Regions from separate parts of the Homo sapiens genome. Here regions 2 and 3 are each linked to region 1. Evidence: fine-mapped expression QTL. A gene starts in region 1. Each other region holds a variant in brackets. All regions are shown on one strand. Distances are between the middles of the regions. Region 1 holds the start of FPR3 (formyl peptide receptor 3). Region 2 overlaps SPACA6-AS1 (SPACA6 antisense RNA 1). Region 3 holds the start of LOC105372449 (a long non-coding RNA gene).

Region 1 (4,169 bases):
AGGCGTGAGCCACTGTCCCTGACCTTTATTTTTATGTATCGGTATTTTTGTTATTTCTTGGCCATTGATTGGTCTAGAGATGGCATGCTCTGGCAATGAAAGACAAGGAGAGGTCCTGAAGAGACTCTGGACAAGGTTTCCCTCTGTAATAAAATGGAAGAGGCATGTGAATGAGTCACATTTTCTGCCTGTCTCATGATTCTGGCTCGGGAGGGCCTGTTGATGCAATGTCCAGAACAGTGGCAGCCATTCTGTGGTCACTTTCAAGAAAGCCCTAGAAGAAAACCAATATGATGATGGAGTGGAAGGGTGACATTAAACTCAATTTTTGTTCAAACTCCAGATCTATCCCCTTCCAAAACTTTTTTTAATAATAAATTTCTCCATGGCTTATGTGCTTCATTGGTTTACTCTACCTTATCACTGAAAACATCCAGTGAATCAGAGAGAAAATAGAAAATAGTTGACTCTTGTTTTGTGGCTCTCCACTGTTTTTCATGGTTCTATTCCTTGGGCTTGAGAACAACATTCTGATGGTGTTTAAAAACTCAGAAAGAGCCCATCTCCTTAGATCAGTAGTCCATAGAGCATCTCCCTAGGGGCAGAAGGTTAGGGGGTTAATCTCGGCAATGGTGTGGAGTGTACAGTGTCTCTCATTTACCTTCCTTACCTCTCTACATGCTCCTAGTTACTGCTTCTCTTTGTAACTCTGAGGTATGAAATACCTCAAAGCATATTTGATTTTGTCACAGATTTCTGGCACAGGGCTCTTAAAACCCTTGGAATTCCCTGAGTGATAGGAGTATTATTTGTTATTCATAAACAGCCCCTTTTGATCATAGCTGAGTTTATGCTAAGGAGATCATGGCCTTAGGATGGGACTGGTCACCAGAAAGACCAAGGGATTAGAGGGTTGGAGCTGTCAGCCCCACCTACTGATCTCCAGGAAGGGGAGGCAGGGACTGGAGATTGAGTTCCATAAAAACTCTTGAACAATGAGATTTGATGAGCTTCCACATTGGTGAACACTCAGGAGTGCTGGGAGAGTGGCTGCCTGAAGAGAGCATGGAAGCTCCATGCACCACCCAACCCCTTCCCTGCCATATACCTGCCATATGCCTCTTTCCAATGGACTATTCCTGAGGTATATTCCTTATATAAAGCAACAGATGCAAACAAAGTGCTTTCCTGAGTTCTGTGTGCCATTCTAGCAATTTATTGGTGTCATTGGAACACCCAATTTATAGCCTGTCAGTCAGAAGTACAAGTAGCCACCTGGGACTTGCAACAGATGTCTGATCTGATCTGAGAACAGTTTGTGGGAGTGAGCCCTTTAGCTTTTCGGATCTGAGCTGAATCCAGGTAGACAGCATCATAACCGAATTTTTAATTGCAGGTGGCCCAGGTGGTGTCCCCAGAGAATTGGAGAATTTCTTGGTGTAGAGAAAAAGTATATTTGGTCAGAAGGATTGTGAAAGTAGAGAATCGAGTTTTTGTTTCACCGTGCATCTTTGTTTTTTTATTGTTTTTCCTCTCATTCTTCTCACCTTGGTAATTGTTTCTTTCATTTTCCTGAATCTCTGAAAAGAAAGGGCCTGGACTCTCAGATTTCTTGGCCTTTGATATTTGGAAGGATGAACTCCAGTCTCCCACAGAAGGCTAGAGGTGAAGGAACATTCAGACACATAAGTTTCCAAGATAAATCGTCTGAGAACATCTCCAAGGTGTCTTCTGGGAATGGTAAGAAACCCTGAGTTTGTGTCACTGGATTGATTCCAGCTCCATTGTCCCCGTGTCCTTCAACTAAGTCTCTGCTGAAGCCTGTTCTATAAAAACAGCAAGTAAGTGGTTTGGACTGACCTATTGTACTAGGTTCGACAAAGCAAACCAAATGGAGTCAGTCATACTAAAACTCCACATCACCAAACCAAAACTAATGTATCTGAACTTTTGAGAAATCAGGAGAGAGAGAAAATGGACAAATTCCTAAAACAGGCCAGTTTCAGTGGGCATGAACATGAAGTTCTGTCTGCTTTCATCTTTACAAAAAAAAAAAAAAAGCAATCTGTGGTAACTTGACTTCAATCAATCAGTTGTTCCTTATTGCTGTCTCTCTATTCCTGCTGCACAAAAAAAATGCAACATCCAGATGACCAATCAGGTTTTTGTTCTCTGTTTCTGCTTTCTTTAGCCCTCCTATCCCTGTAAAACCAACTTCCTTGGCTCTAACTATCAAAACACTCATTTTGTTTTATAGCATGACAGGCTGTCTGATTCCATCTTTATAACCAAAGCCAATTAAGATCTTAAAACCAAACATATAACTTCATCTTTTTACAAGTACTTAGAGCCTGAGTTGCTCCACAGGAATCCAGGAACTGGGCACAGGAAAAGGATCTAAGCTGGTGGTAAGTTGGGGTCTGAAAATTTTAAAGTTATTGTTGAAATGCCTGCTATATGACAGAGCCCTTCTAACTCTGGAGTAGCGTAGTCCAGTGAAGAATCCACTTCGTTAGTATGAAAACAATGTTAACTATTTCATTAACAGTGTTTAATTTGGTTACATGTTCCAGTAACATTCTTTTTTTTTTTTTTTTTTTTTTTTTTTTTGATGGAGTCTTGCGCTGTCACCCAGGCTGGAGTGCAGTGGCACAATCTCAGCCCACTGCAACCTCTGCCTCCCAGGTTCAAGCGATTCTCCTGCCTCAGCCTCCTGAGTAGCTGGGATTACAGGCACCTGCCACCACGCCTGGCTAATTTTTTGTATTTTTAGTAGAGACGGGGTTTCAATATGTTGGCCAGGCTGGTCTTCAACTCCTGACCTCGTGATCTGCCCACCTCGGCCTCCCAAAGTGCTGGGATTACAGGCGTGAGCCAATGTGACTGGCCAATTCTTTATCATATATGTAATTAAATAAAATTTATTACTAAAATAATTTCCCCAAAGGTGTTTTACTTTTTTAAAAACAGTGGCTACAAAAAAATTTTGAGTCCCATATGTAGCTAAAGTTAACACATTATATTTCTACTGGACATGTAGCATTGTAGAGATGTAGCATTGAAGGATCTTGATAGTCCTGTGGAGCTTACGTACTAGTGTGGAGGGTATTTAAGAGAGAAGATAAATGAACAAACAAATAAAGGAGAAAAGTATCTGGTGAGATAGGCTGTACCTGAGCATTCTGCTTTGCAGAGTGGGTGAGGTGGGATCTCTCTGAAATAATATTTGACCTGAAATATGAATATTCAGGATGAGCCAGGTGCAGGAAGCTCAAGACGAAGAGCACGGTAGGCAGAAGGAATAGAGAAAGCAGAAGCCCTGAGATGACAAAGAGCTGCAAGTTCAAGGAATTAGAGCCCAGTGGGTGGAGCCCAGTGTGTCTGATGAGAGTGCAGAGATGAGGTCTGAGGGATGCACAGGGCACATGTGGCAGTGGATAAGGGAACCTAGGATAAGGGAACCTAAGATAAGGGTAACTTAGAAGTCTGGAAGCCATCGGAAGGTATTGCGAATAACATCACCATCTTATTGGACCTTTTTAAAGCTCATTTGGTTTCTGTCTGGAGAATGGATCTTAGGGGAGGGGGCAGCAGGACCAGGAAAAAGCTATTTGCAAGGCTTGTGCAAATATCCAAGCCTGACAGGGCCATGGACACCGGTCGTGGAGATGGCAATGGCTCTGGCTGTGCATTCAGCATGTTCTGTAGATAGAATGAGTAAGACGTGGATGGCGTTGGGTGGTGAGGAAAAGAGAAATGAAAGGTGAGTTCTAGATCTGGAGCTTTAACAACTGAATATTTAATCTCCAAATAGATACAGAATATTGGAAGAGTGGCAGGTCTGGGAGGCAGAGAACATCAACAGTTTGGTAAAACCATGTGAGGTTTGGAGTCTATGGGACTCCCACGGGGAGAGGTTTTATCAGACTTGAGTGCCAGGGAGAGGCCACGGCTGATAATTTAGATGAAAAGACAGCATAATGGTTTAATCCCAGAGACTGGATGATATCATTTATAGAATGTGAGATACCCCAACATTTAGAGTCAAATTTAGAATAGAAAACACCGTAAATTGGACTAAAAAGAGGAAGAGAATCGAGCTGTAGAGACGACCAAGAGTGTATTGTGTGCACATATCTCTTGGATATATCTCATGGCATAGGAAAAAT
Region 2 (4,169 bases), 110 kb before region 1:
ATCGTAAGTGAAAGTGAGGGGTCTGACAAAGGGTCCTTCTTAATCATACATGAATTTGTGTGCATGACAAGTTTAAATGTACCCAGTGTCAATCCTTAGAAATAGCATATTTTCCCAGAGCAAGCCCACCCCAAAGAAGGAGCCAGAGAGGCCTGGGTTTGAATCTCTAGCTCCATCACATACTTTGTGAGCTTGGGCAACTCGCTATTCAGAACTGCATCCTATTCAGTATTCCATCCTTACAATTGGGATAATAATAGTTTCTAATAATAAGGTTTCTGTGTAATCAATGATATAATGTATAACAAATACTCATCCCAGGAACTGGCTCCAAGTAGTCATTCAATAAAGGGTATCTGTTGTCATTATTATTATCCCATTGTTAGTAATTATCAACAAATTTTAAAGGATCTAGAAGTAAGCATTTATCGAATATCTGGGTTTAGAGGCTTAAAAGCATTGGACAAAATCACTTTAAAAATCAGCAAATTTGGGCCAGGTGTGGTGGCTCAGCCAAGGTGGGAGGATCACTTGAGGTCAGAAGTTCAAGACCAGTCCAGCAAACGTGGCAAAACCCCATCTCTACAGAATACACAAAAATTAGCCGGGCCTGGTGGCGCAGGCCTGTAGTTCCAACCACGTGGGAGGCTGAGGTGGGAGAATGGCTTGAACCTGGAAGGCAGAGGTTGCAGTGATCTGAGATAATGCCACTGCACTCCAGCCTGGGCAATCCGTCTCAAAAATAAATACATACATACATACATACATACATACATACATACATACATACATAAGCAAATCTGTAAATATCAATATGCATAACCATTAGTTTCTTGACATAAAAAACCTCCCAATCTCCCAATTAACTGAATACACTAGGAATAAATAGATGAATACAATGGAATATTATATCACTATTAAAATGAATGAGGAGGTTCTATAAGCCTAGATATGGGAGGATCTTTGGATATCATGTAAAAAAAAAAAAAAAAACCAAGGTGCAGAATAATGTGATCCTATCAGGGGACAGAAAAGAGGAGGGTGGTATATATGTGCATAGATGTATAAAATTCCTCTGGAAAGATACATAAGAAATTAGTGAATATATGCTGTCCCCAGAGAGGAGAACTGGGTGGCTGGAGGATAGGGAGGGAGGGAGATGCACTGTTGAAAGCCCAGCACCATGCATCCTGAACGTTTTCCCTGGCTCTTAATGTCCACTAAGTTCTCAGATGCCCACAGCATCTCTCTCCTCTACCCTCTTCTTCCTCCTAGTTCCCCATTGAAAGCAACTCCTGCCCCATCCGTTCCTGGGCCAGACTCAGGGAGTTGTAGTTTTCCTACCTGTTTCCCGCCCACAGGTTCCTGTTCTCTGCCCCCAGTGCCCAGCAGTCTCCAGCCATCTCCAGCTCCTCACATTCCTGCCCCACCCCTTCCTCTCTCCCCAGGTCCTAGCCCGCAAACTGCAGGGAGGGGGCCTCCTCCCCAGCCTCCACCCGTCTCTCCCCCTCCACTCCACACAGCCTCAGCGGGGTCTGACATTCAGCTATAACCGTGTCCCCGCCCCTTGCTCACAACCTTCCAGGGCTCCCTGTCACCCTCAGAAGGCTAAGTTCCCAGCCTGGCCTGAAACTCCCTAAGAATCTGACCCCGCCCGCTCGCCCCACCAGCCTCATCTCCTGTGCTCCTTGGCTCCTGGCTTCGGAGGCTCTAGTCAGACTTAAGGGCTTTGTTGTCCTCCCAGCACCTCCTTGGTTTCCTGCCTTGGGCCTTCGCTTCAGCTGTGCCCTCTGCCTGGAAGGGCCTTAGTGGAGGTCATGCCACAACCACGCCTTCTCTGGAGGTCCTCTCTGCCGTCTCCAGCTGCCAGGATTCCTCCCGCCCTGGGCTCTCACAGCCTCTGGCCTCTCCCTGTGTCATACCCAGATCACCCGGGATTGGGACTGTCTGCGGCTGGCTCTGTCTCTTCCATCAGACTGTGAGCTCCATCTGCAAGGGCAGATTCGGGTCTGATTCACCTTTGAGCCCCCAGTGGGTGGGGGTGGGGG[G/GA]TGGAGATACTAAAGCTGGTGGGGGCGAAGCTGGGAGAGCAGGAAGGGGGAGAGAGAGACGGGCAGACCCTGACTGGTTCGGGGAGAGAGGGGAGGAGAAAGCGAGAGAGAGGAAGAACAGAGACACAGAGACAGGAAGGGAGGGAGAGAAACAGAGAAAAGGGAAGAATAAATGGGAGACACAGATAATGCCCCACAGGCAGAGAAAGAGGATGGAGATAGGGAGAGGGCGAAAGGAAGGACAGATGTGCAGAGACAGAAGGGAGGACAGACGGAAAGAGACACAGAGAGGCAGCAAAAGCAACCAAGAATGACAGGAGCAGAGAGGAGGAGGGAAAGAGGGAGAGAGAGAGAGAGAGAACGAGAGAGAAGGGAGGGAGGGAGAGAGGGAGAGAGAGAGCGAGAGAGCACGCACAGAGCGAGGAGGAGGCGCAGGAGAGAAGAGGGAGGGAGGCCAGCGAGGGACAGGACGGGGCGGAGAGGCGGAGGGGAGCTAGGGAAAGCCGGGGAGGAGCGAGACTGGCCGAGGAGGAGGGCGGGCGAGCGGGAGCGCCGGCCCCGCCGCCTCCCGGCCTCTTTTGTCCCTTCCCTCCTCTGCGTCAGGCTTCTCTGGCCCGGCCTCCCCCTCCCGCTCCCTCCTCCTCCCCGGGGCTGGATGGAATTTTTTCCCCTGGACCTGGGCCAGCTCCGGGGCAGGGGGGAAGCCAGGCCGGACTGGGCTGGGCGGTGGGGAGGGGCCGGGGCGGGGGGCCCCCTGGGGAGGGGGCTGGTCCGACGGCCGCGCAGCCGGCGGGGTCCAGGGAGGGGGAGCCCCGGACCGCAGAGCCGGGGAGGAGGTGACGGCCGGAGGGAGTCGGGGAGAAGGGAAGGAGGATGGCGGGGACGGCGGGAGGAAGGGGAGAGGCCGCCGTGCGGCGAAGGCGGGGAGAGGATGGAGAGCGCTCGGCGGCGGTGGGGCCCGGCCTGCGGGCCCGGGGCGGCGGAGAAGACCCCTTCCCTGCGACGCGGGAGCCGCGGGAGCCGTGAGTCTGCGGAAAGGGAGGGTGGGGGGCTGGGGCCCGCACTCCTGGGTCCCTGAGGGAGGAGCACCCGGGGGCCTGGATTTCAGGGTTCTTGGAGGAGGAGTTGGGGGTGGGGAGGGTGGGGTGGCTGGGAGCCCAGACTCCTGAATCCTTGAAGGAGGGGGCTGGGACCTGGATCCCGGGGTCCAGAATCTGGAGAAGGCTGGGGACACTTCCTGGATTCAAGAGGGAGGACAGAGATGGGGGCTGGGGCTGGTAGGATCGTGGCTGGAAGAGACTAGGGGCGAGCTGCCCGAGCCCTCGGGGGAGGTGGAGGAAGACTGGCTTTGGAGTGCCTGCGGCAGCGGAAGGGTTAACGTCTGGCTGGAGGGGAGGGGGAGGCGCAGGGATGGGGCTGCGGGGCTTTGAGGGGTCAAGGGTGAGCCGTGCCAGTGGGAGGGGGCCGAGGAGGAGGGGGAGGTTGTCTGGGCTGCCAGACAGGCCAGGGTCAGCGGCGGGGGCAGGAGATGTCTGGAGGAGGAGAGGCCCAGCATCCATGCTCCCTCGGGGACCCGGGATTCCAGGTCCCAGACCCCTCCTCCCTCAGATCTGGGAGTACACCACCCAGTCCCCCACCCATTCCAGAATCCGAGCCCCCAGCCCCCTTTTTTCCAGGATCCAGGAGTCTGAGCCCCCAGTCTGTTCTCTCAGACCAGGGAATCCACACTCCAGCCCCTAACTCCTTCAAAACCCCAGAGTTCAGAACCTCAGCCCCTCTTCCCAAGGAGCGCGGCCCCCAACCCTCTGTTCCTCTAGAACCCAAGCGTTCAGGCTCCGGCATCTTTCTCCCTTTGAAGCCTGCAGTTCTGGGGATCCCCAGGCCCCTCCTCCTCCGGAACCCAGGAGTCCCCACCTCCTCTTTAGCCCCAGCTGGAGTCCAGCCCTCCAGGGGTTAAGGGGGCGGGACCAGCTAGTTGCCATGGTGCCAGACTGTTTGGGTCTGCTCTCTGACCCTTGGGGGCTCCCCAGGGTCCGCAGAGAGGGGGAGGGGGACCTAGGCCTGGGGGAAGTCCAGAGCCTACCCCTTCCCCAAAGCGGGGCTATGGGCCCAGGGAGTTCG
Region 3 (4,169 bases), 440 kb after region 1:
GCCCCGACCTGCTCAGGCAGAGCCTTCATTTTAACAAGATGCCCAGGTTCATCTGCACACTGAAGTTAGAGAAGTCCTGCCTTAAATACTAACCCAGTTTTTCTCTCTTGAGAGTGAGGTTAATGCTACGTGGGTCTAGGGCTGAGGATGTGCTATGGCTCAGAGGTGGGGTCTACAATTGGACATGTGTATGTAGACAAGGCTCAGGGATATGTTGAGGCTGCTAGATTGGGCAAGTGATGGAATGGGATTATTACAGGAGGTGGAGGTGCGATGGATACCCAGGATGTGCTGGGTAATGAGGTGATACTCAGCGACCACAGGAGTGAGTATGAGAGACGAGGGTGAAGGATAGCTTGAGTTATTGAACGCTGGCAGAGTCCTGAGTTAACCAGGAGTTGCCTGGTGTCTTGGGTCATGTGCTCTAGAAGCAGAGCCCGAGTGGAGACTCGTTCAAGTGTGTTACTGAGGGAGTGCTCTCAGGAGAACGGACTGAGGTAACTCACCTTCTGTGAGCTTCATGTTGGAAGAATCCAATCAGGTGATGAATGTGATGTTATTAAGTCCATTGTTAGGAGTGGTTCCTAATCTCCCAGGCTGCAGGCTTTGTTTGCTCCATACACCTGGCCTTCTCTGTAGCAGCTGAAGTTTGATGCTGGAGCTGGGTCAGGGTGGAGAGACTGTGTGGAGCCAGGACTCATGACCCTGGCCTGTTTCTCCCGCTCTCTAGGCCTAAATCCCAGCAGTCACACTGGCCATCTCTAATGGTTCCTTCCACAGCACTGTTCTTCAGAGCCCACACACAAATTTTGTCTCCTTTTGTGATGACTGCACTTCTTTGGCTGTTTTTGCCAACAGCCTCTTCACTGACCCCTTCCTTCCACTGCATTGACCCAGACATCTGGATGTGGATGAGGTCGAGTCACTTGTTGCCTTTGGCTAATGCATAGGGGCACGAGTAGAGCTCTAGAATCACCATGCCCTTGACTCAGGGTGCAGAATCTGCCTATGGTGCTTGAGCTGTGGTTGTCGCTAGAGGAGAATTACCATGGCTCCCCCGGGCAGATGAAGATGACGAGGTGGTGCCTCAGCCCCGAGGAGTGAACTGCAGGGCACCGACAAGATTCTGCCTGTGGCCATCAGGGCTGGAGGGAAGGAGGCCAGGTTCATCTACCCAAGCTGGTGGCATGAGGCATAAATTTAAAAAAATTGGTGTGGGCACAGTGGCTCGCACCTGTAATCCCAGCGCTTTGGGAGGCCGAGGTGGGCGGATCACCTGAGGCCGGGAGTTCGAGACCATCCTGACCAATTCAGTGAAACCCTGTCTTTACTAAAAATATGAAAAAATTAGCTGGGCGTGGTGGAGGGCGCCTGTAATCCCAGCTACTCAGGAGGCTGAGGCGGGAGGATTGCTTGAACCTGGGAGGCAGAGGTTGCAGTGAGCCTAGATTGGGCCATTGCACTCCAGCCAGGGTGACAGAGCAAGACCCCATATGAAAAAAAATAATAATTCAGGAACTTGTCAAAAAGAGAAAATCCAATAAAGATTTAGTGCCAGGCCTTGACTCCAGCAGGCCTTCCCCGCTCTCTCGATGTCTTGCCATACAGAGCTGCAAGGTGGTGGGGGGTTACAGGCTTTGTAGGGCTGGATTTTTCCCAGTCGGCCTCCAGGAAGGGTAAGAGACTAGTAGCTCGAAGTTTGGGTTGGCTGATTGGGTCCTTCCCAGACTTCGGAGGAGGGAAGGGAAACCTGAGGCCCCAACTCTTCATGGGGAATCACTGCTCTCTGTCCCCAAGAGCACATGCCTTTCCTGACAGAAGCTGAGTAGCGGGAATCTGCTTCCACCCACCCCTTAGCTTGGGCTTAGGCTCAGTCCCCA[C/T]CCTGCTGTTCCTGTACCCTGTGCATATTCTAGAGCAGTAGGGAGAATGGGCCTTCCCTGATGCTGAAAATAAGAATGAGGGGCTAGAACTCCAATCTCACTCTCTAGGCAAATGGCAGATGTTTATTATTCATGAATACTGTTGAGTTAATTCAGGTCTGTGTTCCTTTGCTGTTACTCCTCTTTTTTCGTATATTTTGTACAGATACTAAGCTTTTATTTTATTTTATTTTTTGAGACGGAGTTTTGCTCTTGTTGCCCAGGCTGGAGTGCACTGGCACTCCACCTCCCAGGTTCAAGCGATTCTCCTGCCTCAGCCTCACAAGTAGCTGGGATTACAGGCATGCGCCACCACGCCCGCCTAATTTTCTATTTTTAGTAGAGACGGGGTTTCTCCGTGTTGGTCATGCTGGTCTCAAACTCCCGACCTCAGATCATCCGCCCGCCTCAGCCTCCCAAAATGCTGGGATTACAGGGGTGAGCCACCGCACCCAGCCATTTTTGTTTACTTTTTGAGATGGAGTCTCGCTCTGTTGCCCAGGCTGGAGGGCAGTGGTGCAATCTCCACTCACTGTAACCTCCACCTCCTGGGTTGAAGCGATTCTCCTGCCTCAGCCTCCTGAGTAGCTGTTACTCTTAACATGGATAAAAATACTTTAAAAATTTTTCTTTTTTGGGAAACTAAAAGATATGCGATTCTCAATTGATTATTCAGTCTGTGGCCTTCTACTGAAGGAGCATACAGAATCTCACCTCCAGGAGCATGGAGCTCTCTTGGATAGGATCCTGCTTTCTGAGGCCAGAGCTTACTCTCCTATGTGATCAGAGGCTTTCACAGCATCCGCAGTGGTCTCCAGATCAGCCCTATCATGGAGGCTTGGTCCAGAGATCTTCATATGAAAAGGGAAATAATAAGTGTCTGGGAGACACTTCTGCAGGGATCCTGCCCTGTCTCAATAATCTCCCCCATGGCCACAGAAATACCCTGGGATTTTCCCAGGAGCTAGCCGACACACACAGATAGATTATGAACTTCAGATAGAAGCCCCAGCCTAGCCCTCACTCTGATACCTGTCATCCCCAAACTGCTCTGAAGTGCTTATGTGCTGGTATCTCCCAAGAGTCTGCATGTCAGTGTGTCTGTGCTAGTGTAATTTATTTAGAAAAGTGCAAAGGCAAAGGGCAGGATCAACAGGCAAAGGGCAGGATCCTGGAGGCTGGATCTAGGGTCCTCTTACCTGATTTATGTCACTGATTTTCCCAAATATTGATAAAAATGAATTGATCTCTAGGTGGCAGAGAAACAGGAGGAACCCTAGACTACATAGTAAGTAGAAAATAATGCTGCATGTCATTTAGATTGAGCTCAGCCCTGAGTCATGAAGTCTTCAGAACAAAGGAATAGTTCTCCCTTATCTGATGCTCACTGTGGCCTTGGGCAGCCTGGCATCGAGAATTCTCAGCATGTTCACTCTTGAGTTCTGTGCCTGCATCACACAGCAATGGAACAGTCCCAAAAGATTCTTAAGGGTGGGGAAAGGCACTAAGAAAAGATGAACCTGCAGTCCCTGTTATACCATCTGGTCTAATTGATACTACTGTTGTCAAGCAAAAGGAGCTCTCTCCCTGAGGCACTGGAAGCCAATATTTTGACACCAGGTTTTTGAGAAAGAAAAGTTTTTTATTGTAAGTTGACTCACAAGATGAGTCAAGCTCAAATCTGTCTCCCTGTGCTGGTTTTAAGGCAGTAATTTAATTATAAAACGTTTAGGAGGTGGATTCTGGGGTTCTCAGGTGATAGGTAGAAGGAAAGGAGAGGTCTGGAAAGTCTTCAGGCATGCACAGTTCTCTTCATGTCTCCTCATGCATCATGCGCACATTTAGTGGGAGTTTGAAACATGGTGAGGAAATTCAGGCTGTGACATCAGCATGCTTGGTCTGTGCAAACTCCATTTGGCCATATTGGTTTCAACCAATTTTGGCCAGTTTTGTAGAGGGAGTTTGAGCATTTCAGAAAGTTATTTCTTATCTGCTGTTCTGTAAATTCATAATCTTTGTTAGTTACTGGTTTATTTAACTCTTTGGGCATGGGTTCACTACCACCTGTGCTGACCCCACTTGATCTTTTGGGCCTCCTTACTTCCCACCTTCATTCTCTCATCATACTTTATATACACTAATAACTCCCCTGCTATTCTGTATGTAACCCAAATATCAGCTGTACTGCCTCATCTCTTAGATATCTATGTATACTCTGACCTAATCAAAACCAGAAATTGTGGAGTGTGA

Evidence for each region.
Region 2: its variant is fine-mapped to the expression of FPR3 in whole blood (INTERVAL, PIP 0.94).
Region 3: its variant is fine-mapped to the expression of FPR3 in nasal epithelium (TOPMed, PIP 0.96).

Annotation. Positions count from the first base shown.
Region 1 is chr19:51,792,924-51,797,092 of GRCh38, forward strand. It overlaps FPR3 (formyl peptide receptor 3), which reads left to right and starts at 2,234. Exons shown (of 2, transcript NM_002030.5): 1 at 2,234-2,408.
Region 2 is chr19:51,686,513-51,690,681 of GRCh38, forward strand. It overlaps SPACA6-AS1 (SPACA6 antisense RNA 1), which reads right to left. Exons shown (of 2, transcript NR_108100.1): 2 at 1-1,989. It also overlaps a transcript of SPACA6 not described here. Among named protein-coding and RNA genes, the nearest start is that of MIR99B, 4.0 kb to the right of the region's middle. RefSeq lists a silencer at 1,480-1,698 and enhancers at 3,476-4,169, 3,820-3,919. The variant G/GA (reference allele first, on the strand shown) is at 2,049.
Region 3 is chr19:52,227,949-52,232,117 of GRCh38, forward strand. It overlaps PPP2R1A (protein phosphatase 2 scaffold subunit Aalpha), which reads left to right. Exons shown (of 15, transcript NM_014225.6): 15 at 1-1,570. LOC105372449 (a long non-coding RNA gene) reads left to right here and starts at 3,479. Exons shown (of 3, transcript XR_001753993.2): 1 at 3,479-3,566. The variant C/T (reference allele first, on the strand shown) is at 1,881.